Linked DNA regions of Homo sapiens: regions 1, 2 and 3 are each linked to region 4. Evidence: fine-mapped QTL for protein levels in blood plasma. A gene starts in region 4. Each other region holds a variant in brackets. All regions are shown on one strand. Distances are from middle to middle.

The links. PIP is the chance, under the fine-mapping model, that this variant and not a neighbour inherited with it causes the effect. The UK Biobank Pharma Proteomics Project read protein levels with antibody pairs (Olink). The fine-mapping took linkage between variants from a reference panel, not from the people measured, so its PIPs are less certain.
Region 1: its variant is fine-mapped to the plasma level of the IGFBP7 protein (UK Biobank, PIP above 0.99).
Region 2: its variant is fine-mapped to the plasma level of the IGFBP7 protein (UK Biobank, PIP above 0.99).
Region 3: its variant is fine-mapped to the plasma level of the IGFBP7 protein (UK Biobank, PIP above 0.99).

What each region holds. Positions count from the first base shown.
Region 1 is chr4:57,080,995-57,086,603 of GRCh38, forward strand. All of the region lies in intron 1 of IGFBP7 (insulin like growth factor binding protein 7), which reads right to left. Among named protein-coding and RNA genes, the nearest start is that of IGFBP7-AS1, 26 kb to the right of the region's middle. The variant G/A (reference allele first, on the strand shown) is at 2,357.
Region 2 is chr4:57,142,031-57,147,639 of GRCh38, forward strand. All of the region lies in intron 1 of IGFBP7-AS1 (IGFBP7 antisense RNA 1), which reads left to right. Among named protein-coding and RNA genes, the nearest start is that of IGFBP7, 34 kb to the left of the region's middle. The variant G/A (reference allele first, on the strand shown) is at 2,620.
Region 3 is chr4:57,046,334-57,051,942 of GRCh38, forward strand. All of the region lies in intron 1 of IGFBP7 (insulin like growth factor binding protein 7), which reads right to left. Among named protein-coding and RNA genes, the nearest start is that of IGFBP7-AS1, 61 kb to the right of the region's middle. The variant A/T (reference allele first, on the strand shown) is at 2,378.
Region 4 is chr4:57,107,393-57,113,001 of GRCh38, forward strand. It overlaps IGFBP7 (insulin like growth factor binding protein 7), which reads right to left and starts at 2,993. Exons shown (of 5, transcript NM_001553.3): 1 at 2,485-2,993. The coding sequence starts at 2,959. IGFBP7-AS1 (IGFBP7 antisense RNA 1) reads left to right here and starts at 2,370. Exons shown (of 5, transcript NR_034081.1): 1 at 2,370-2,578. RefSeq lists a silencer at 3,062-3,131.

The DNA of each region.
Region 1 (5,609 bases), 26 kb before region 4:
TGAGGATGCTGACAGATGCCATCTGGTCCTTCTCACCTTTCCTTTCCTGGAAGTCAACACCCATTTCCTCTATGGAGCTTCCCCCTTTTGTCAGCAGGGGAAGTGAAGATCCCAACCTGGGTACTTAAAATGGGCCTTGAGTGATACTTTCTGGAACATTCTTAGCTTCAGGGCAGGGCCCAGGGAAAGTGCCTCTAATGATCCTAATGTTAGTTTTAAACTTGCTTGGTAATCACTTTGGAATTGCCCATTTTTTTTTCACAGAGCTTTCTGGCCCATACTCAGCTATGGGTTCTAAGTCTGAAAGCCTGTTAGGGCATTAAAAATGACAGCTGTTAAAATGCTTAAGAATTATGAAGGGAGGAAGCTAATGCTTAGATTTACCCCCCACCAGCCCCTCCCACTCACACCATAGACCACATATTTTCCCCTCAGAAAGGAAAACATTCCTGACCTCTGTTTAAATGTTTATCAGAAGTTGTCTGGACTTGTAAATTCTCTGAAGTCACACTCTTTATTAGTCACATCCTTCTTGGTGTGTGGTGTGACCCTTCTATCAGGGCAGGGGGAATGTCGGGCCTTGTGCAGAAATCATTTGGTGCGGGAAACATCAACCACCACCCAGAGATTTTCATGTAGCCCAAACACAAGCAGAAGCTGAGCAAGGACCTTGAGCTTCCCCATGGTGGCAGGGCTTCCGTTTTGAATATGTGTGAAAAAAATTCCTTAGTTCTGAGTCCGCTGGGGCCTTGATTTTAAAACAAAGCCCCAGCATGAAGTCTGGCTCCAGAGAAAGAAAAGTGGAAGTTCTAGGTCCTCAGCACAAAATAAAGGACTATTCAGAGTTCTATTCTGGCTCCAAAGTGCTGCTGCTTTGGGTTTGCAATTGAATCACCCTGCCTTCCTGGTCCTTTGACGTTGATAACTTAGCTTCTACTTGGGATTCTGTGTAAACAGTTTGCATCCAACAGACTTTGGCTTACCAGGTGAAAGGCACTGTTGTAGAACCGACTCGGGGATGCTGGTGTGTGAGAAAGAAAGGTACTACTAGAGCAACAGAAAATGCACTGATTAGCAAGTAGGGGAAGTGGGTTTTGGTACCATTTCTCCCCACATTTTACTTAGTCCTCAGTTTTTTCATCTGTAAAATGGAAAGGTTGAAGCAATGATCTAGGAGGTCCTTTGGGGTCAAGAATCCTCTTTGTCTCTACATCAGAAGTGGAGGAACAGGTGTGAGTTTCAGCCCAAGGAATATCAGTTATAATAAGAAAGACTTTCCTGAGAGAAGGCTGAGTTTACAAAGGATGCTCTGTGATTTTCCTCTTTTGACCAGTGTGGGTCCCAAATCGCGGTCTCAGAGAGCTCTTCTGGGACCTGCGTCTTTGGAGTTGCCATGTTTGAAATCTCTTAGACTAAGATGATACAGGGAAGTGGTTAGGGAAAGGTTAATGATGAACTGAAATATCACCCCAGAATCATTCTAGATCTATGAGTGTATAGTTTTAAATTTGAATCAAGTTTTTGGTAATTAGAAGAAGGAAAGAAAAGAACCTTCGAAATTTAGTTATGAGGAATATCAATGATGTAGTGGTTCAGTATTCTTTTAAAATATTTTGTTGCTATTTAAAAAATGCAAAAGTGCATGCTCACTGTAACAATTCAAATATACAAATATATAAAGAAGCAGCAAGTTGTCTACTTTTACCTCCTGATAATCCTAACCCCCCAACAACTTATATAAACTGTTTATACATATAGTTTTTATTTTTTTAATGAAAATTTCATACCTATTAACATGCAAGCTGCTTTAAATTTTTTTTAAAGTTTTATTTTAAGACACAGGGTTTGTCTATGTTGCCTAGGCTTATCTTGAACTCCTGGCCTCAAGCTTCCTGAGTAGCTGGGTCTACAGGTGTACACCACCACACCTGGCTTAAACTGCCTTTTTTTCAGTGAACAATCCATGTATTATGTATTAGCTTTATTAGTTCAATACACATAAATCAAATTCATTCTTTCCAATAGCTGCAAAATGTCCCCAAACATGGGCATAATTCTTTAAGAATATTCCAGATGTTCCAAATTCTTCTATATACAAACTATGATACAATAAATATTCTTAATACTTATGTCCCTATGCGTTAGCACTTTTGTTTCTGTAGGAGAGGTTTCCAGAAATAAGATTGCTGGGTCAAAGGGTATGAGAATGTTTAATTTTAATAAATACTCCTAGATTACTTTTGAAAAGCTTGTTAGGAATTCTGGTCTTGGCAATAGTGCAGGAAGGTCCCCATTTCCCTGCACATTTCCCAGCAGTGGGAGTGAGAAATTTTCAAAAAATTTGGCTAAGCTGAAC[G/A]GGGAAACATTGTAGGTTATTGTTGTTCTAATTGCATTTCAGGACTTGTTGTGAAGTTGAGCAACTCTTCACATGTTTAATGGCCACTTGCAGTTGTTCCTTTTAATTCACTATTTATTACTTTTCTCTTTTTCCTGTTGCTTTATCGATCAACTTACATGAGCTCTTGTTTACTACAGATATTTAGTTTGCTTATCAAATATTTTGCAAATAACTTCTCCAGGCTATTACTGTCTTCCTGTTTTGTTTATGGTTTTGGTTGCCATACAGCATGCCACAAGGGCAGTGATGCTGGCTGTTTAGTACATTGCTGTGCCCTCAGCAGCAGGAATGGTGCGTGGCACATAGTATGTTCTCAATAAAAACAATTATCTCATGAATGGGTGAATGAATAAGTAATAAATTTGAAATTTTAATGCAGCTAATCTGTTAATCCTTTCTCTTATGGTTTCTGGGTTACCAGAATAGTTCTATTTTATTAGTTTTATTTTTCTTGAAATTAATCCTTTTATCCATCTTGAATAGTTTTTTATTAAGAATTTTTCTTTTCTATTTGGAGTCCTAATCCATCTTAAATTTGTTCTGCATGTGGTATGAAGCAGGGCAAACTGACCCTAAAGTTTGGCCATTACTTTGTGTGAAAAGCATTACATGAAATGCAAATTATTTTTAGAATTTATCTGAAGGTGTCCTATACAGTAAAATACAAATATACCCTACCACTCATTTTATGTGTTGTTAAAATATCTAAAGTTAACTAAAAAATAAAGACTGGATAATGCTTTTCTGACAGCTAATTTTGTTCGCATTTTTGCTTGATTATATATGATTAATTTTGTCTCAATTATCAATGAATGCAGATTATCAGGGAGTATCACAAAATTTAAGTATGTGGCTTATCATCTCTAATGAAGTCACTGAATTGTATACAATTTATTTAATAGGAGCATATGCTGGATTAACAGAATCAATTACTCAAATTTCAGTATTAAAAAAAATTCCTTTAGCCAAAAATGAAGTGCCTTTTCTAAAAATCATGAAGAAAAAACATGGACATGAAATGGTGTGCAATGAATTCAACATTATACAGACTTGAACATTTTGAGAGTAAGTCACATGTTTATGCATTATACTATTCTGATGTCGGCAGTTTAAACATTTTCCAAGATTTCTTTAAGATGCAATCATTCCACCTCCTCCATGAAGCCCTCCTAGGTGGAAGTCATGGCTACTTCCTCTGAACACGTGCAGCAATTCTTGCTTCCACCACTTATAAGGCACTGCCCAAAAATGGCTTGCAAGGAAACCTGAATTGCCTCTATTATTCAATGGCTTCTAGTTTCTGTGGTAAAATCAGGGGCTGTCAAATGATCTGATGATAATGTAATCTTTTCCCTTATAAGTCATTTAATCTTTTTACTCAGATGTTTAAAAAAGGTTTTTTTTTTTTTTTTTTTTGGGACAAGGTCTCACTGTGTTGCCCAGGCTGGATTATAGTCATGTGATCACAGCTCACTGCAACCTCAGACTCCTGGGCTCAGTTTGTCCTACCACCTCAGCCTCCCAAGTAGCTGGAACTACAGGTGTGTGACATCATGCCTGGATAATTTTTTTTAAAAATGGATACAGGGTCTCACTATGTTGCCTGGGCTGGTCTCGAACTCCTGGGATCAAGCGATCCACCCACCTTGGATTCCCAAAGTGCTGGGATTACAGATGTGAGCCACTGCACCTGGCCTAGATCCTTTTTTCTTTTTCTTTAAAGTGCAGTATTGTTTTCACTAGAATATCAATAGGTATTTGTCATTCTAGATCCATATTCTCAGGTATACTGTCTGGTCTTCCAAAATGTAGTTCTACATTTTTCTTGTATTTCAGTGAAGTTTTTTGGAGTTATAATTTTTAGTGTTGGCTTGCTTTCTTGCTTTGGTTTCCTTCTTCAGTGACTCCTGTTATCCGTATGCTAGATCTGCTCTGCATATCTTCAGTGGTTGCTGCTTTTGATCATTCCTCCTTTCTTTTTAATTTAATAATTTTCCTCCTTTTAACCTCCTAGTCTTTTAAGGGATTCTCTATTGTTCTTATTCGCTATTGTGTTTCTTTTGGTTTCATTTCTGAAATAACAACTGAGATCTTCACCACATTTTCGAGTTATTCTAATTTTGGCTTGTTACTCTTTATTTGTATTATTTAAAAAATGTCTTTTAGCTCATGTTATTCAGATAGTCAGTTGTATGTAGTTTTCACCTGTTTGCAGACGTGCTTTCATTGCAGGTAGGGATGTTATTCCCTTTCTCTCTCTCACTCTTCTCTTATATAAAATTTCTTTCTAGTATGGGGTTTGGCCTTAATCTTTCTCTGTGCTTTTTTAAAATGTAAAATTGGTTTTCCACAGCCTTACAAGGAGACATTGTCCAAAATACCTTTTTGCAACTCCTCAGAACTCCATTTTGTGTTGTTTTCATTTAGTGTTAAAAACAGTAACTTGCTTTCTGTGATTTTCTGGGTTTGTTTCCCTCCTTCACTTTTATTTGGTCTTTTGTTTCATTCATCTCTATTGTTTCTGTCCTGCTCAATTTTGATTCTATTCCTAGTAGTTTTTCTTTGGTGAAGGGCCCTGTCCTGGAAGGGAGCTGTATTAGTCCATTTTCACACTGCTGTGAAGACATACCTGAGACTGGGTAATTTATAAAGTAAAGAGGTTTAATGGACTCACAGTTTCACATGGCTTGGGAGGCCTCACAATCATGGTGGAAGGCAAAGGAGGAGCAAAGGTACATCTTACATGGTGTCAGGCAAGAGAGCATGCAGAGGGGAACTGCCCTTTATAAAACCATCAGATCTCGTGAGACTTACTCACTGTCATGAGAACAGCATGGGAAAAACCTGCCTCCATGATTCAATGACCTTCCACCAGGTCTCTCCCATGACACTTGGAGATTATGGAGTTACAATTCAATGTGAGATTTGGGTGGGAACACAGCCAAACCATATCAGGAGCCCCGGCTGGGGGTTTTGAGAGTTCACGGGACCCAGGCTACTCAAGCCCCTTCCACCCTTTGGGTCCCTTGCACTCACCCACTAATGGACTTTCCAGTGAAAACCTGTTGGCTATGTTGAGATTTACCTATTATTGGATCTGTCATCACCTCATTACTGCCCTCTGTGTCTTTCCACCTAGCTGCTGACAGCCTGCAGGCTTGGTGGCATAGGTGGCTTGTTCCAACCCACTTATATTTTGGCATTTGTGGGG
Region 2 (5,609 bases), 35 kb after region 4:
CTGATTATTAGTGATGTTGAGCATTTTTTAATATATCTATTGGCCATTTGTATGTCTTTTTTTGCACAATGTCTATTCATGTTCTTTGCCCACTTTTTAATGGGATTATTATTATTTTACTGTTGAGTTTTTCGAGCTCCTTGTGTATCCTGGATATTAATCCCCTGTCAGATGAATAGTTTGCAAATATTTTCTCCCATTCAACAGGTTGTCCCTTTACTCTGTTGATTGTTTCTTTTGCTGCGCAGAAACTTTTTAGTTTAATATAGACCCATTTGTCTATTTTGTTTCTGTTGCCTGTGCTTTTGAGGTTTTAGCCATAAAATCTTTGCCTTCACCAAAGTCCTGAAGGGTTTCCTCTACGTTTTCTTCAAGTAGCTTTGTAGTTTTGAGTCTTACATTTAAGTCTTTAATCTCTCTTGAGTTGATTTTAAGTTTTTTTTTTAATTTTAAGTTTTGGTAGAGACAGGGTCTCGCTATGCTGCCCAGGCTAGTCTCAAGCTCCTGGGCTCAAGCAATCCTCCTGCCTCAGCCTCTCAAGGTGCTGGGATTACAGGCGTGAGCCACTGTGCCTGGCCTTGAGATGATCGTTGGATAAGATGAGAGATAGAGGTCTAGTTTCATTTTTCTGCATATGGATATTCAATTTTCCCAGAACCATTTATTGAAGAGACTGTCCTTCTCCTAATGTATGTTCTTGGTGCCTTTGTTAAAAACCAGCTGATTGTAAATACATGGATTTATATCTAGGTTATCTATTTTGTTCCATTGTTCTATGTGTCTGTTTTTATACCAATATCTTGCTGTTTTGGTTTCTATAGCCTTGTGATATATTTTGAAGTCAGGTAGTGTAATGCTTCTAGCTATGTTCCTTTTGTTCAGGATTGCTTTGGTTATTTGGGCTCCATATAAATTTCTTTTGGTTCCACATAAATTTTAGGATTATTTTTTCTGTTTTTGTGAAAAATGACTTTGGTATTTTCACAGAGATTGCATTGAATCTGTAGATTGCTTTGGGGAGCATGTTTATTTTAACAATATTAACTTCTAAAATTCATGAGCACCAGGTATCTTTCTATTTGTATCCTCTTCAATTTATCTCACTGGTGTTTTGTGGTTTTCTTTGTAAAGGTCTTTCACCTCCTTGGTTAAATTTATTCCTTGGTATTCTTTTGGTAGCTATGTAAATGAGATTCTTGATTTCCTTCTCAGCTAGATTGTTATTGGTGTATAGAAAGGCTACTGACTTTTATATATTGATTTTGTATCCTGAAACTTTACTGAATTTATTTATCAGATCTAAGAGTTTTTTGTTGGAATCTCTAGGTTTTTCCAGATATCTGATCATGTCATCTGCAAAGGGGGATAATTTGAGTTCCTCTTTACAAATTTGAATGCCCTTAATTTCTTTCTCTTGCTGGACTGCAATGGCTAGGACTTCCAGTACTGTGGTGAACAGGAGTGGTGAAAGCAGGTGATATGGTTTGGCTGTGTTCCCACCCAAATCTCATCTTGAATTGTAGCTCCCATAATCCCCACATGTTGTGGGAGGGACCTGGTGGGAGGTAATTGAACCATGGAGGTGAGTTTTCCCATGCTGTTCTTGTGACAGTAAGTTTCATGAAATCTGATGGTTTTACAAAAGACAGTTCCCCTGCACAACTCTCTTGCCTGCTGCCATGTAAGACACACCTTTGCTCCTCCTTCACCTCCACCATGGTGGTGAGTCCTCCCCAGCCATGTGGAACTGTGAGTCTATTAAACCTCTTTTTCTTTATAAATTACCAAGTCTGGGTAATTTAATATAGCCCCATATTAGTCTTCGTGAGAACAGACTAATACAGTGGGCATCCTTGTCTTGCTTCAGTTTTTAGAGGAAAGGCTTTCAGCTTTTCTCCATTCAGCATGATGTTAGTGGTGGATTTGTCATTTTTGGCCTTTATTATGTTGAGGTATGTTCCTTCCATGCCTAGTTTGTTGAGAGTTTTTATTATGAAGATATTTTAAATGTTATCAAATGCTTTTTCTGCATTGATTGAGATGATCATATGGTTTTTGTCCTTCTTCGATGCTCTACCCTTTCTCCTGTTCTCTAATGATGCACTACAGAAATGATCCTTGGAAGTACAGTCTTTTAAGGTACATTTTAAAGACCTTCTGTGTTTTATTGAAAAAAGGAAATATGCCTTTTTAATTATAATGTTATACATATTCATTAAAAGGATTTAGAAAATACAGATATGATAGAGTCTGTAACATTAAAAAGTATGAATGTGTAAGTAATCACACCTTTTCCCATTCCCTTCCCTGTCAAAGGAAGACAGGATCTAGTGTTCTGCTGAGAAAATGTGAGGTTGCAGAACTGTAAGGACAGAAAGACTGAAATAATTTTTAGTCAAAAGAGCCCAGAGCAATTGGAAGAACAGAACAGACCCCAAAGCAGAGAGCTGGGGTCAGATGGAGAGAAAGAAGGACAAAATTTTGTATGTATCCGCCTAGCTGTGCGCTGTGAAACTGAGAAGAAATATATATATATATATATGATTTTAAAGATGTTTTCACAAGTGTCATGCCATCTAGTAACTCTTCCCACTCTCTTCAAAAGAATTCCATAAAAAT[G/A]TACATTGCTTTTTAATGTTTTCTTTTGGGTTTTGGATTCTTTTGAATGCAAAACTGTATTGTGACTCATCATGAAATACCCAGTTTTATTTGGGTTACAAAAAAAGAAAACATTAAAAATTCATAATTCCATCTTTAGACTCTACTAGGGTTTAAAACATGGTAAAGATAGTATGTATGCATATGTTTATTTATTTTTTTGAGATAGGGTCTCACTCTGTTACCCAGGCTGGAGAGCAGTGTCACGATCTCGGCTCACTGCAATCTCCGCCTCCGGACTCAGGTGATTCTCCCACCTCAGCCTCCTGAGTAGCTGGGACTACAGGTGTGTGCCACTGCACCTGGCTAATTTTTGTATTGTTTGTAGAGATGGGGTTTTACCATATTGCCCAGGCTGGTTTCAAACTTGTGGGCTCAAGTGATCCATCTGCCTCCCTTCCAAAAGGCTGGGATTACAGGCATGAGCCACCCTGCAAGGCCAAGAATTTTTTTTTTTTTTTTTTTTTTTTTTTTTTTTTTTTTTTTTTTAGAACATGGCTCACTGCAGCCTCGACCTCCTGGGTTTAAGCAGTCCTCCCATCTCAGCCTCCCAAGTAGCTGGAACTATAGGCATGCACCACCACATGGGCTAATTAGTGTTTTTTTTTTTTTTTTTTTTTTTTTTTGTGGAGATGGGTTTTCGCTTTATTTCCCAGGTTGCTCTTGAATTTGTGAGCTCAAGAGATCCTCCATCCTTGGCCCCCCAATGTGCTGGGGTTACAGGTGAGAGCCACCATACCTGGTCCATTTATTGTCTTTTATTCCTCTGAGGAGAGCACACACACAGAAAATACATCATGGTCTTTTCAAGCACGTAGAGCTTGCTAGCCACTGGCTTCTTCTCTTGATAATGGCTCTAATGTCATAATTAGCTTGGCCTCTTCTAGAATGTTCCTTTCTGATAAAGGCATTTTGGCTGTAGGAACTTGTGACCAATGCTGTAGGTGCAATCTCAGAGGACTTGAGACATCAAAACCTTTTGTTTCCTCTGTGAGAGAGAATTCTCTTCTGTGTAGAGAATTATTGATCAACCATCTTTAGTTTAAATGATTATGTGTAGCTGCTAGTTCTAAATAATACATGGATTCCCTTCTGTAATTCTCTATACATGCTTTCACCAAAATAAATAAATAAATGATGAAAACTATGGAAGACAAAATCCTACATTATTTTGAAACAACAAAGGCTAAAATAGGGGCAAAACCCCCTTCAAGTCCTTTCAAGAGGGTTGAAAGGAAACTTCCTTTCCTTCTGTTTGGACCTCAGGGGAGATTCTTATCGTTTCTGGAATCCCATGCCTGCTTATGTTTCCCAGATGTTCTTTCAGATAATTAATCCCTCCTCCAATTTATTCCTCCTCTTCTCCCTGCACCCAACAGAAATAGGTTGAAAATTCTTGCACCTTTTTGATAAGAGAGAATGGACATAAAAAGCATCTAATGACTAAAAATCCTCATATAAATGTTGTAGAATCATTTCAATTTTTAATAGAAGTGTACCTGTTAAAAAAGGACTAGAGAATCCACCAAATATCAGAGTCCCTTGGTCTTGCATTCCTTAGTTTCTTACTCTTTTTTCTTTGGTGATCACTGTACCTCCTTCCTTACCCTTTCTCTCTTGTCCATTTCTGGAGAGTTGCTCTTGACTTCCAGGAATTTCTTGGCATTTCTGAAAACCTAGTTCCCCTCGTCCCCTTCTTATCCCCATGGTGTCTGATATTACTTTTAATATCATCTTCAGTTATCTCTGTTGCATGTTGGTTCCATTAATATGTGCTGAATAGCTCCTTTTTGCCAGGCATGTCTCTTGGAACTGAAGATTGATGCAAAGATAAATTGAGATCATGGTCCCTGCCCTTGAAGGTAGGAGAAAGGAAAGCCCCACATTAATTCACTATGCAGAATCTGACTGAGATGTCAACAACCCACACTGTTATACAGATATGACGGCAGGTGGGGGAGCTGGGGAGGACACTTTTGTCTGCATGACTCTAAAGATCTGCCTGTTTCCCCTCCACTGTGCTGTCCTCCCTCAGCTATGGCTGGAAGGCTGAGAAACAAATCCACTACAGTTGGGGAAAAGGAACGACCACATTGTGAGCATCCGCTATGTGCCTGTCACTCTGGATATATCGTTTAAAGGATATAAAGTAGCCATTGAATTAGTGTCTGCACTTTCTACATGGAGGGAGGGTTGAGATGTTTTAATTAGGTGACCCAGATGCATATTTAGAGGCTGTGAGTGAGAACACAGAGGACAGGAAGCATTTATAGGGTGGCGGTTTAGGGTTAAAAAGTTCGTATTTCAAGATACAGCAGGAGGCAAAATGGACAAGGCCAAGGAAGAGTGGAAGTGGAAATACTATGTCTCAGAGAGCAAGGGGTATAGTATTTTTCCTGAGATAGGATTGAAGAAGGGGCAATGGATAAAGAGATACATTCAAAGATGGAGAGAAGAGCATTTGGAGAATCTATCCCCAGCAGGTTTTTACCAAAGCCAGTGGGTCCAATGATGAAGGTTACATTAGATCATTTCAAGGGTTTGGTGTCATAAAACACAAGAGACAAACTGTTTCTATTAGTAGTAGAAATGGGAAGGAGCAAAACAGATACACACTAAGTAGGTGGGATGCCAGCAGTTCAGTATTACCTTTATAATAGTTACATAAAACAAGCCAGGAAAGAAAGTTAGTGAATATGGGCTCTGGGTCATTATAGAATTCATTTAGAGAAGAAGAATTTCAGTTAGTAGCCTTCCTGAAAAGAGATGATAAAGAGGCCAGGATTACGCCCAGGGTCTAAGTACCGGCTGAGTATGAGGAAATTGACTCTCCTCCAACTCTGGGGTAGAAGAAACATGATTGGATCAGAGGGAGAGAGATGATTGAGTCATTAGTTAGGCAAAGCAAGAGCTGACGACAATGATAAAGCACTAATGCATCCAAGAGATTT
Region 3 (5,609 bases), 61 kb before region 4:
CTACCTCAGGAGAGCACTGTACTCAATGACTCTGTACCAAATAACTTCTAACTCTTTCCACTCTACCTTTCTTCCAAGAAGGGCAAGGCAGATCGAGAATTTATTTCTGTTTTTAAGAATAAAGAAATTTTTAGGTCACTCTGAGCTAATTTTCTCATACAGAAAGCTCAAAATCAGTCCTCAAGGCCAGGTCAAGGGTAATAACAACATTATCATCTAACTCATACTCAGTGTTTGGATTCCGTTTAAAACAGGTCACAGAATTCTTAAATGTATAGGGACAAACATCAGGATAGGTCCAATTATTTATTTATCCTTGCCCTTGTTCCATTAAGAGCTCCAGACTGCTCAAACATCTGTCTAGCAAACATCCTGTTCATAGAATAAATGACTGTGCGCTGCCTCCCTCTGCCTTGTACCCACCCTCGGCAACTCCAGAAAGCAACCAAGTCATCTGCAGTGCTGCCTGATGTAAAGAGATGTCCACCCAAGGTGGACTACCTACATTTTTCTATCCAGATGACTGTACCCAAACCAGGCTACCCCACTTTCCTTTTACCTTACACACTCAATTAATTCTCATTCAATCTCTTTAGATCCTTCTCAACCCTCTAAATTCATTTTCTTGCCTTCCCTATTTTTTATAACTCTCGCTCAGTAACTTTAGAGTGTCTCTTCCTTTTGATCATTCCTTAGAGGGTCTCTTCTTTTTGAACATTCCTTGAAGGGAAAGAAGGGAGAGAGGATGATATGGTTTGACTGTGTCCCCACCCAAATCTCAAATTGTAGCTCCCATAATTCCCATGTGTCATGGGTTGGGGGGTACGCGGTGGAAGGTAATTGAATCATGGGGACAGGTTTTTCCTGTGCTGTTCTCGTAATAGCGACTAAGTCTCATGAGATCTGATGGTTTCATAAAGGGCAGTTCCCCTGCACATGCTGTCCTGCCTGCTGCCATGTAAGATGTGACTTTGCTCCTCCTTCGCCTTCCACCATGATTGTGAGGCCTCCCCAGCCTCATGGAGCTGTGAGTCCATTAACCATCTTTTTCTTATAAGTTACTCAGTCTCGGGTATGTATTTATTAGCAGCATAAGAACAGTCTAATACAGAGGAGGTGAAGGAGAAGGAGAAGAAAGAAAAAATGAAGAAAGATAGCCAGATCCTGAAGGAAGTTATAGCAAGGAAGAAGAAAGTTCTAACCTTGGAAGAAAACAAAAATTCACTACTATGAAATACATCCTTGGAACAAAATTACATTTGTACTCCATAAGTTTATGCAAATAAAAAATAAACATTAAAAATAAAGTAAATTAAAATTCAATTTAATGAATCATATCACCTTAAAAGTACTTAGAAGTCTCCTGCAGAATCTCCACCTAAGTCTGCATACTCCTCCTTTGCTACATTTTTTCTTTTTAGAGACTGGGTCTTCTCTGTCACTCAGGCTGGAGCACAGTGGTGCGAACATGGCTCACTGCAGCCTCAATCTCCTGGGCCCAAACAATCCTCCCACCTCAGCTTCCCAAATAGCTAGGACTGCAGGTGTGTGCCACCACGCCTGGCTAAATTTTGTATTTTTTTAGATATGGGGTCTTGCCATGTTGGCCAGGCTGGTCTTGAACTCCTGAGCTCAGGCAACCTGCCTGCCTCGGCCTCTCAAAGTGCTGGGATTATAGGTGTAAGTCACCATGCCTGGCTTCTCCTTTGCCCCCCTCCGCCCCCCTTTTTTTTTTTGAGACGGAGTCTTGCTCTGTCGCCCAGTGTGGAGTGCAGTGGTGCCATCTCGGCTCACTGCAAGCTCCACATCCTGGGCTCACGCCATTCTCCTGCCTCAGCCTCCCAAGTAGCTGGGACTACAGGCATCCACCACCACTCCCGGCTAACTTTTTGTATTTTTAGTAGAGACGGGGTGACCGTGTTACCCAGGATGGTCTCGATCTCCTGACCTCGTGATCCACCTGCCTCGGCCTCCCAAAGTACTGGGATTACAGGAGTGAGCAACAGCACCCGGCCTCCTTTGCCACTTTTAATTAAGTTCTAGACAAAGGACTCACAGACTACCAGATTATTTTAAGAATATTTGATTATAATCTAGAAATAGGTATGTTCTGAAAAAGTACTACTGATACAGAAAAGGTAGTTTTATAGATGGATGGATTTAAATTTGGAGTATTATGAGTTGGTTCAGAAGAATTTAAGAAAGGCAGTTCTCACAAAACACACAAATATCATGAGGAAAAGACTTTGACATGAAATTAATTTTGAATTTGACCAGCAATTCATTCCAGCTGATTTTATATAAAGTCTTGGTAGTGAGGACAGAGTTAAAATGTGTTATCCTATAAAAAGCACAGCAGGAACAATATTGAAGAAGT[A/T]TGTGAACAATTTCCTAGTCCCTTACAGAGCACAAAGCACTCCCCAGCCATGACCTGAGATGTCCTCATGATGTTACTATTTAAAAAAAAGAGACAAAAGCATTCTTGGGGACAGAACACTTGGCTCTGAATCCTTGTCTACAATTTATAGCCAAAAGACCTTGGACAAGCCACTTAACCACTTTTACAAGATGAAGAAACTAGGAAGTGTCTAAGAATATCCTCTTTGGGTTTGGAAGTAAGTGAACCTATCATGAATGTGTCCTAGAGCTGGGACATAGATGTCAAAGATGCTTTGACATTTATGAAGTTCTGAAGTCTCACTGTCTGGGTCTGGAGCTCTCATTCTCTGCAAATCAGTTCAATGCATTTCCTCACCTACCTAAACACGATGTATGTGACTCATAACATGGTTCACTTCCTCAGGGATTAAAAAAATAGAGCTTATAAAGGTATCACCCTTTACCCAGTTAGCCAATTTTTTTTTCATCTGAAAGAGCTGTGTAGAAGATATTAGGAGAAGTCATGTTTGAAAGCTAAATATACTTGAATTAAGCCTGGGAAATGGTCAAAAGTCAAATTACCCCCAATAATCATTTCTGTCCTCCAATATCATATTGTACTATATATTTTTTGCTTCGTTGCTTTCTCATTTGCCCATCATCTCTTCCATTTTTACCAATTCACTCTTCTATGTCATTTCTACCCAAACTCACTGTCTGCTCCCAGCAGTCCTGCTCACCCACCATTACATGTTCATTACCCCTTCCAGCACCTTTGCTTATGCTGATGCCCTTACCTACTTGGAATATCTTCCCTCCTCTTATTTCTTATCACACTTTATTTGACATTCTAAGACTGAAGTTTCATTTCTCTTTGACATTTTTTGCGGCCTGACAGCTTCAGGCTCCCCCTTATTTCTTCTCTAAAATCCTGTTGGTTTCGGTAAGTTCCACAGAGTGTAGTGCATCACTGTTTTCTAATGCTTTCCTTAGCTGGCCTAATTGAGGATGCCAGCATCCTGTCGGAATCAGAACAGAACCAGGAACTACGGAATCAAAAGATCTTCATGTTCATTGGAAGGAGACAGAGCTCAGGCTGTGTGAAGTGGGTATAGGGCAGCAGTAACTTCAGAACAACATAACATGATTAGCCAAACAGAAGTGAAAAGATAGCCACTGTCTTGAAAATGCACCAGTGTACACATGGCCAAAAGCGTACACCTCACCAAAGTGGTGTTATAACTATCTTATTTATCAGCTGGCAGATTATTAATCATGATTTTCTTTAATCTTTCACTTGACTTTCTCTTGCCATAAGCAGTGTTTCTTGGCTACTAACCACTCACCAACCAATTAGTATATGACCAGGAGATGCAAATTAATTTGAATATACATCACTTGAAGCAAATCCCACCGAGATGGGTAGGTCTGCTGGAAGAAAATGATTATCAATTATCCTCACACCAAAATCATGCTGGGTTATACTATTCACATTATGGTTCTCACTGAACATTTATTTTATTTTTATTTAAGTTTTTTTTTTTTTTTTTGAGACAGAGTTTCGCTCTTTCGCTCAGGCAGGAGTGAAGTTGTGCAATCTCGGCTCACTGCAACCTCTGCCCTGTGGGTTCAAGCGATTCTCCTGCCTCATCCTCCTGAGTAGCTGGGATTACAGGCAGCCATCACCATGCCCGGCTGATTTTTGTATTTTTAGTAGAGATGGGGTTTCACCATGTTGGCCAGGCTGGTCTCGAACTCCTGACCTCAGGTGATCCACCTGCCTCAGCCTCCCAAAGAGCTAGGATTAAAGGCATAAGCCACTGCACCTGGCTTTTCAAAAGTTTTTATAGACAGAGTCTTGCTCTGTCACTCAGGCAGGAGTGCAATGGTGCTACGATCATAGCTCACTGCAGACTCCAAACTCCTAGTCTCATGGGTCCTTCTGCCTCAGCCTCCCAAGGAGCTAGGACTACAGGCAAGTGCAACCATGCCCGGCTAATTAAAAAAGAATTTTTTTTTTTTTTTTGTAGAGACAGGGTCTTGCTTTGTTGCCCAGGCTGGTCTCGAACCCTTGGCTTCAAGTGATCCTCCCTCCTCGGCCTCTCAAAGTGCTGGGGTTACAGGCATGAGCCACTGTTCATGGCCTCTTGCTGAGTACATGCTAACATGGCTAAGACATTTGAGTATGGGGACTTCTCCGAGTTATGATAGATTTGCAAACAACACTCACCTTGACTCTTGATGCTGGGTCCTGAAAATAGTGTGTGCATTAATACCAAATAAGGGGAAAATCAGGGTTTAAGAAGGACCTCAGATACCACATATGGAGATAGAGAGTTCAGACAACTTGGCAAAAATCCCTAGATTGAGATGAGATTCTGATAACACATTAAAGGGAACAGGAGCACACAAAAGTACAAAACGGGAAAAGAATAGTAGGAAGGCACTATGGCCAAGATGGGGAAGGGGATGAAACAAGTGGAAGCTTCCTGATATTAAATAAGGGGAAGCAGTAACTGTATGGCTAATTAAAGAGCAGAGCCATCTGCCAAGGCAAGTCATTTAGGGAACTTCCAGAGGCGGGATGATGTAGCAGCTGAACCCTGGTATGGGAATCTAGCACACGGTCTCAGGGGTACTGGCTGAGGACAGCAGGGGAGGAGAAGAAAGTACAACAGCTTAAGCAGCATAGGCCAGATTTAATCTCAGGCTTTTAGTTTAAGGCAAATTCATCTAGTTATGGAAGCTACTGTTAGTCATTTCCACTTTAGTGTGAATGAAGAACCAATAGTTTATAATAATGGGACCCTGCCAAACACTGTTTAGGGCAAAAGTGTGTAAGAACTGCTTCCTCTTCTCTAAATATAATCTGTTGGGGTGGTGTTGGGGAGGCTTAGCGCATTAAGAGTAAGAACAAAATGCTGGGAGGTAATAGACTATAGTGACTTTGGAGCGTGGACTTGGAATCAGGAATTCTGCTCTACCACTCCTGAGTTATGCAACATTGCACAAGTTATTTCACTTCCCCTGCTTTATTCATCTGTGAAATGGAATGATAGTATCCCAGTCATTAGACCATCAAAAGGATCAAACAAGATACAGCCATTAGCACAGTACCTGGCATGGGGTAAACATTCAGTAAGTATGAGCTGTTGCTTTTCATTTCAGAAATTAGACTTTCATCAAGGAAGGTGAAAGACAGGGACCTGCCTGAGGAGAGGCAGGAAAAC
Region 4 (5,609 bases):
TAGAGGAACCTAGACAATGCATTTCCTATTCTGTGCAAAGCCCCAGTATGAAATGGCACAGAAGTAAATGGCACTCTGTCCAGTTTGCTTCTATGATTGTCAAAACCCATCCAGGTGTCAGAAGAAATATTTAGGGGATGTGATAGGGATCAGTCTATTGTCTCTGCTGTGGAAAGTTTCTGCTGTGGGAAAGGCTTCCCATTCTCTTCTGCTCTCTTTGGCATTCTCCTATAAATGGTCTCTGCCATTTAGAACTCATCTCTCTCAATTTAGGATGAGAAGAAATGGCTAATTTAAGTCAAGGTTTCCAGTTTTAGATGCTGTTTTCTCTAACATTTCCCCAAATATAAAGAAAAGCCGGGCCGGAACCCTCAAAGGGTTTGCAGTCTGGAGAGGTACTGAGCTGGGTGTACATGGTAATGAGGTTATGAAACTGGTTCTATATGACTGTCAGTCTCAATATTTTATAATCAGACTGTGTGAGTGTTTGGTGATGTAAGTAGCAGGTGAGAAAAAGGAATATTAAGTATAAACTAGAAATTGACAACACTTGAACAATCACCAAGCTAACCTTCTGCTCTGATAAGGCAAGTATCTGCCATTTTGAAAAAACTATAAAGTTCCCCATTGTAATGTTTATAAGAAAATCTCAATATTTGGAATAAATTCTTAAATAACGCACATTTATCTTTTCATGATGTGACCGACAAATGAGATCCAAAGTAACAAATAACTGTTTCTATTGTAAACATATGCAGATTATTTTGGGTTGCAATTTTCTAAGTTTAAGGTGATGATACTATAAATAGTTACTAGTGAGTTACACAATTTAAGGCTTTCAATAGTGAACTCTGAAATTGATGACATACAACCTATTAGTTTGTGGACTTCTGGGAAAAGCTCTAAAGAAAGAATTTGGAAATTCTGGAGAAAGTCTGAACTGTGTTAAAGAAGCAACAGCTTCTGTAACCTCAGAACTGCCTCCTCTCCCTTTTCTACCTTGGCTAAGATCAGGAGCTGCCAACATTGAATGTCTGACTTTCCCTTGAAAATACTGCCAATGGAAAATGTTATTTCAGGCATTAGAGTTAAAATTTCTATGTGTGTGTGTATGTGCGTGTATTTGCAAGTCCAGACTTTATTTTCTTCTTTCTTTCTTTTTTTTTTGAGATGGGGTCTCTGTCTGTCACCCAGGCTGGAGTGCTGTCATGTGATCTCGGCTCACTGCAACCTCCGCCTCCCAGATTCAAGCGATTCTCCTGCCTCAGCCTCCTGAGTAGCTGTGATTACAGGCATGCACCACCATGCCCAGCTAATGTATATATATATATTTTTTATTAGAGATGGGGTTTCACCGTGTTGGTCAGGCTGATCTCGAACTCCTGACCTCGTGATCTGCCCATCTTGGCCTCCCAAAGTGCTGGGATTACAGACGTGAGCCAACCCACCCGGCCTATTTCCTTATTTCATTTACAGCAAGCTTGGACTTGTTTGGAATAAAATAAACAATCAAACATAATCTCAAAGACATTTCTGCTGAACAGTGTATCCTGGGGACAAATTATGCAAAACAATACAAATCAAAGAAATAGGAAGGAAAAACAAAATGGTCAGAAGGTTGACAACAAAGTGCATCACAAAAACAGTCTTCAAAGAGTTTGTATTTTATTTTTGCCCACAAATAATTAGCTAGTTAGATTACTGTTTGAGAACCTATAATTTTTAGAAAGTGGACTATTTTCTTCAATACTAAGAAATCAGGGCTGTGCACGGTGGTTTATGCCTGTAATCCCAGCAGGCCGGGATTACTTGAGCTCAGGAGTTCGAGACCAGCCTAGGCAACATAGTGAAACTCCGTCGCTATAAAACAAAACAAAACAAAACAAAAAACCAAAAATTGGCCAGGCGTGGTGGCACAGGCTTATAGTCCCAGCTACTTGGGAGGCTGAGGCAGGAGGATCGCTTGAGGCAGAGGTTGCAGTGGGCCAAGATCGTGCCACTGCCCTCCACCCTGGGCGACAGAGCAAGATCCTATCTTTTAAAAAAAAAAGTCTGTCTGGAAGTCCTTACTTTATATTTAATTGTCAAACTCCTTTCCCCCATCTCTTGACTTCACCTCTCTCTACATCCCCAAGCCAAGAATGATGAGAAATGGACAGATGTTAGCACGAGTTGGGTGCGCTTTGGGCATGGGGAAGTCTGAGGTCTCGGAAAATCTTTTCTACATATACACCCGGCCCTCACTTTCTGGACGCACGCAGCAAACTCTCAAAATAAAACCACCAAAAAGGAGAAGGGGGGGCGTCGCCCACCGCTCCTGGCATTCCGCGGCTGCCAACTCTTTCCCTCCCATCTGGCTCCTGGGATGCCCGCGGGGGAATCGCAGTGAGCAGCGCGGGGCGAGGCCGCCGCGGACGCCCCGTCGGATGTGCCCTTCGCTGGGCCGAGCGGCGCAGGGTTGGAGAGGGAAGCGCTCGTGCCCACCTTGCTCGCAGGTGCCCTTGCTGACCTGGGTGATGGCCTTCTCCCCGCGGCTCTCGGCCCTCTGGCTGGCGGCGCGCAGCTGGCAGCCGCTCGGGTAGGTGGTGCCGTCGCTGCCGCACACCGGGTAGCGGCTCTTGCACACGCACACGCCGCTTACACCCGGACCGCCGGCTGCTGCCCCGGCTTTACCCTTCCGCCTCTTGCGGCTCTTCACGCACTCCATGCCCGGCGCGCAGTACCCCCTGCCGGCGCCGCCACCCCCGCACGGCTCGCCCTCGCCGCGGGCGCACATAGGGCAGCAGCCGCACGCGTCGCGGGTCTCGCCCAGCAGGCAGCCCAGCGGGGGCAGGGGCGGGCAGGAGGCCGGCTCGCAGGGGCCGCAGGTGTCCGAAGAGGAGGAAGAGGAGAGGGGCAGGAGCAGGAGCAGCAGCCCAGCGGCGCCGAGGAGCAGGGCGCGCAGCGACGGCCGCTCCATGGCGGGGTGCGGTGGCAGCGGCAAGGGCGCGAGTGAGCCGTGTCGGGCCGGCCGGCGCCTTAAACCCGCCGCCCCGCCCGGCCTGTCCGCGGGAACCACACCCCGGGGCGGTGAGAGCACGGGGGCCCCGCCCGTGCCGCCCTCCCGGCCCCGCGGGGCCTGCGCGCGCGCTCCTGCTGGCGTCGGGGGGTGAGCGGGCACCCGGCGTGACCGGCCCATGGGCGCTCGGTCTCACGCCCGCTTCGCAGAGCTCACCCCGCCAGCTCCTGCTCGGTCCCCAGTCCCCTGCCCCGAGCCCTCAGGGATCGCACCGCAGTGCGAGCGGCTCTTCCACCCTCTGGTTTCTCCCCGTTTCCGGTCAATATATTTAAACTTCTTAACAACCACGGCTTCGAGACGATCCAGGGTTTCATCTATTAAATCCTCCGTGGGCCTGAGACACCTGAGTGCTCATTACTCTGTGGTTTGGGAAGCTCTCTTAAGAACAAGCTGTTAAAAACCCCCACTTGTGGACTGTGTCCCCGCTGGCCACAGGCCTGCTGTGGTCTTGGGTGTCAAGCACTAAAAGGACAAACCGTTGCCAACCACTTCCCTTTCTGGAACCTCTTAACTGCCTGCACCTCCCTCCCCGCTTTGTCTCCCAGTGGCATTCAACAAGACTCTGTGCTTTTTTTGTGCTGAGCCGTTTTCAGTGAGTACTGGAATCCGTGTGAGAGCTGTGCCCTTGTTTTGAGTTCTTGCTGAACTGCTCGCCCTCCAGCAAGCCTCTCGGGAGAACAGAGCGCAGCTGAGAGGAGCAGGGGTCCCAGCTCCTTCCTCGTTGGAGCTGCCACGGAGGCACCTAAAGCGCCCCCAGTCTTCACCAGCATTCCAGGAGGTTTTTGATATAAACGGTGGACTCTTCCTCAGTCTTTCTGCGAAGTGCTCTGCAAACTCAACTTGAAAGCCTCTCTTCCCAGGAACACTGGCCTCTCCAATGCAGACATGGAAGTTGCTTTCACTTTTTAACTGAATGTGTAACATTGCAGCGTGCATTATTCTGCATGTCACATTGTGGTTCTTTTGTGTTCTTTTTTCTTAGCATAAATCCAGGGATTTACAGGGTTGCTGACTGAAAGCCAGCAGTTCAGTTCATAATCCCATTAGCAGTGTAAAGAACTCATTCTCAACAGACTCTTACAAGGATAATTATTGCAAATTTTTTGAAAATTAAATGACCACAAAATCGGGGGGTGGAGAGTGGGGAAACATCCTCCAATCCAGAAAAACCTAGCACTGCTTTTTGGCCTCTCCTTAGTGTATTATAGACAAGTGGAGCATTTTTTTTCCCCTCAAAGGTCATATGTTGACCTGACAGTTGTTTAAAAAACAATGAAAAATCTTTACAGCAGAGTTTCCCTAAATATTTTTGTCTTTGTTCCATCCTAAGAGATGCAGTTTACATGACCCATTTGTTTTCTTGAAAAGGAAACAAATGCAGAGTGCACTCTATTTCCTATTGTATTTAATTTCTTTCTTTCTTTCTTTTCTTTTCTTTCTTTTTCTTTTTTTTATTTTTTTGAGATGAAGTCTCCCTGTGTCGCCTAGTCTGGAGTGCAGTGGTGAGATTTTGGCTCACTGCAACCTCTGCCTCCCAGCTTCAAACAATCCTTCTGCCTCAGCCTCCCGAGTAGCTGGTATTACAGGCATGCACCAACATGCCCGGCTAATTTTTGTATTTTTACTAGAGACAGGGTTTCACCATGTTGCCCAGGCTGGTCTCAAACTCCTGACCTCAAGTGATCCACCTGCCTCGGCCTCCGAAAGTGTTGGGATTACAGGTGTGAGCCACTATGCCCGGCCCTGATTTCCTTTTTATTAATTCACTGGTCAAGAGCCACTAAATTGGTTCCATGATCTAGTATGACGATCTGTCATAGTTTTAGATTCTCCAGAAGCTTTCTCTGAGACAAGGATTCCAGTGCAAGTAGGTCACCTGAGAAGCCACATCAGGACACAGAGATTGAGGGTTGGGGCAGGCAGGTGAGCAAGCAGGAAGGGAAGACAGCCAATAAAGGTGCTTATCTCCGCAGCCAGAAGAAGCCCTCAGGCTCTACAAACTGTGTGTGTGTGTGTGTGTGTGTGTGTGTGTGTGTGTGTGTTTGCGTGTGTAGGGCATGTGGGTGGGCAGTGGCAGCAGCTGTACACTAAGAGCTGTCACCCACAGTGTGTGGAGGTCCTGCATCAGAGCCAACAGTGAGAATGCAAGCATGTGCTACAGCGGAGTCCCTTTGAGGAACCTCCTCACTGCCCAGCAAGCAAAGAAAACAAGCAAGTTTCTGGTCACTGAAAGGGGAACCCGAGCTCTGTGATAGTGCCAGTCGAGCTGGAGGACCTGAAAACAAGAAGAGATGTTAGAAAAAAGGCAGGTGAATGGAGCCTTTAAAGAGCAAGTTGACAACTCCACCCTTCCAATAACAGATATATTGTCACCTGTTCAGCTTCAGTTTTAGTGAGGTGGAGAGGCTGGATGTGGAGATGGAGATATTTTTACTTCTTCCTGTTTAATTGGTGCCTTTTGTTTCTTTTTCTTGCTTAATTGCCCTGGTTAGAACCTCCAGTATAATGTTGAATAGAAGAGGTGAGTGGACACCCTTGTCCCAGTCCTCAC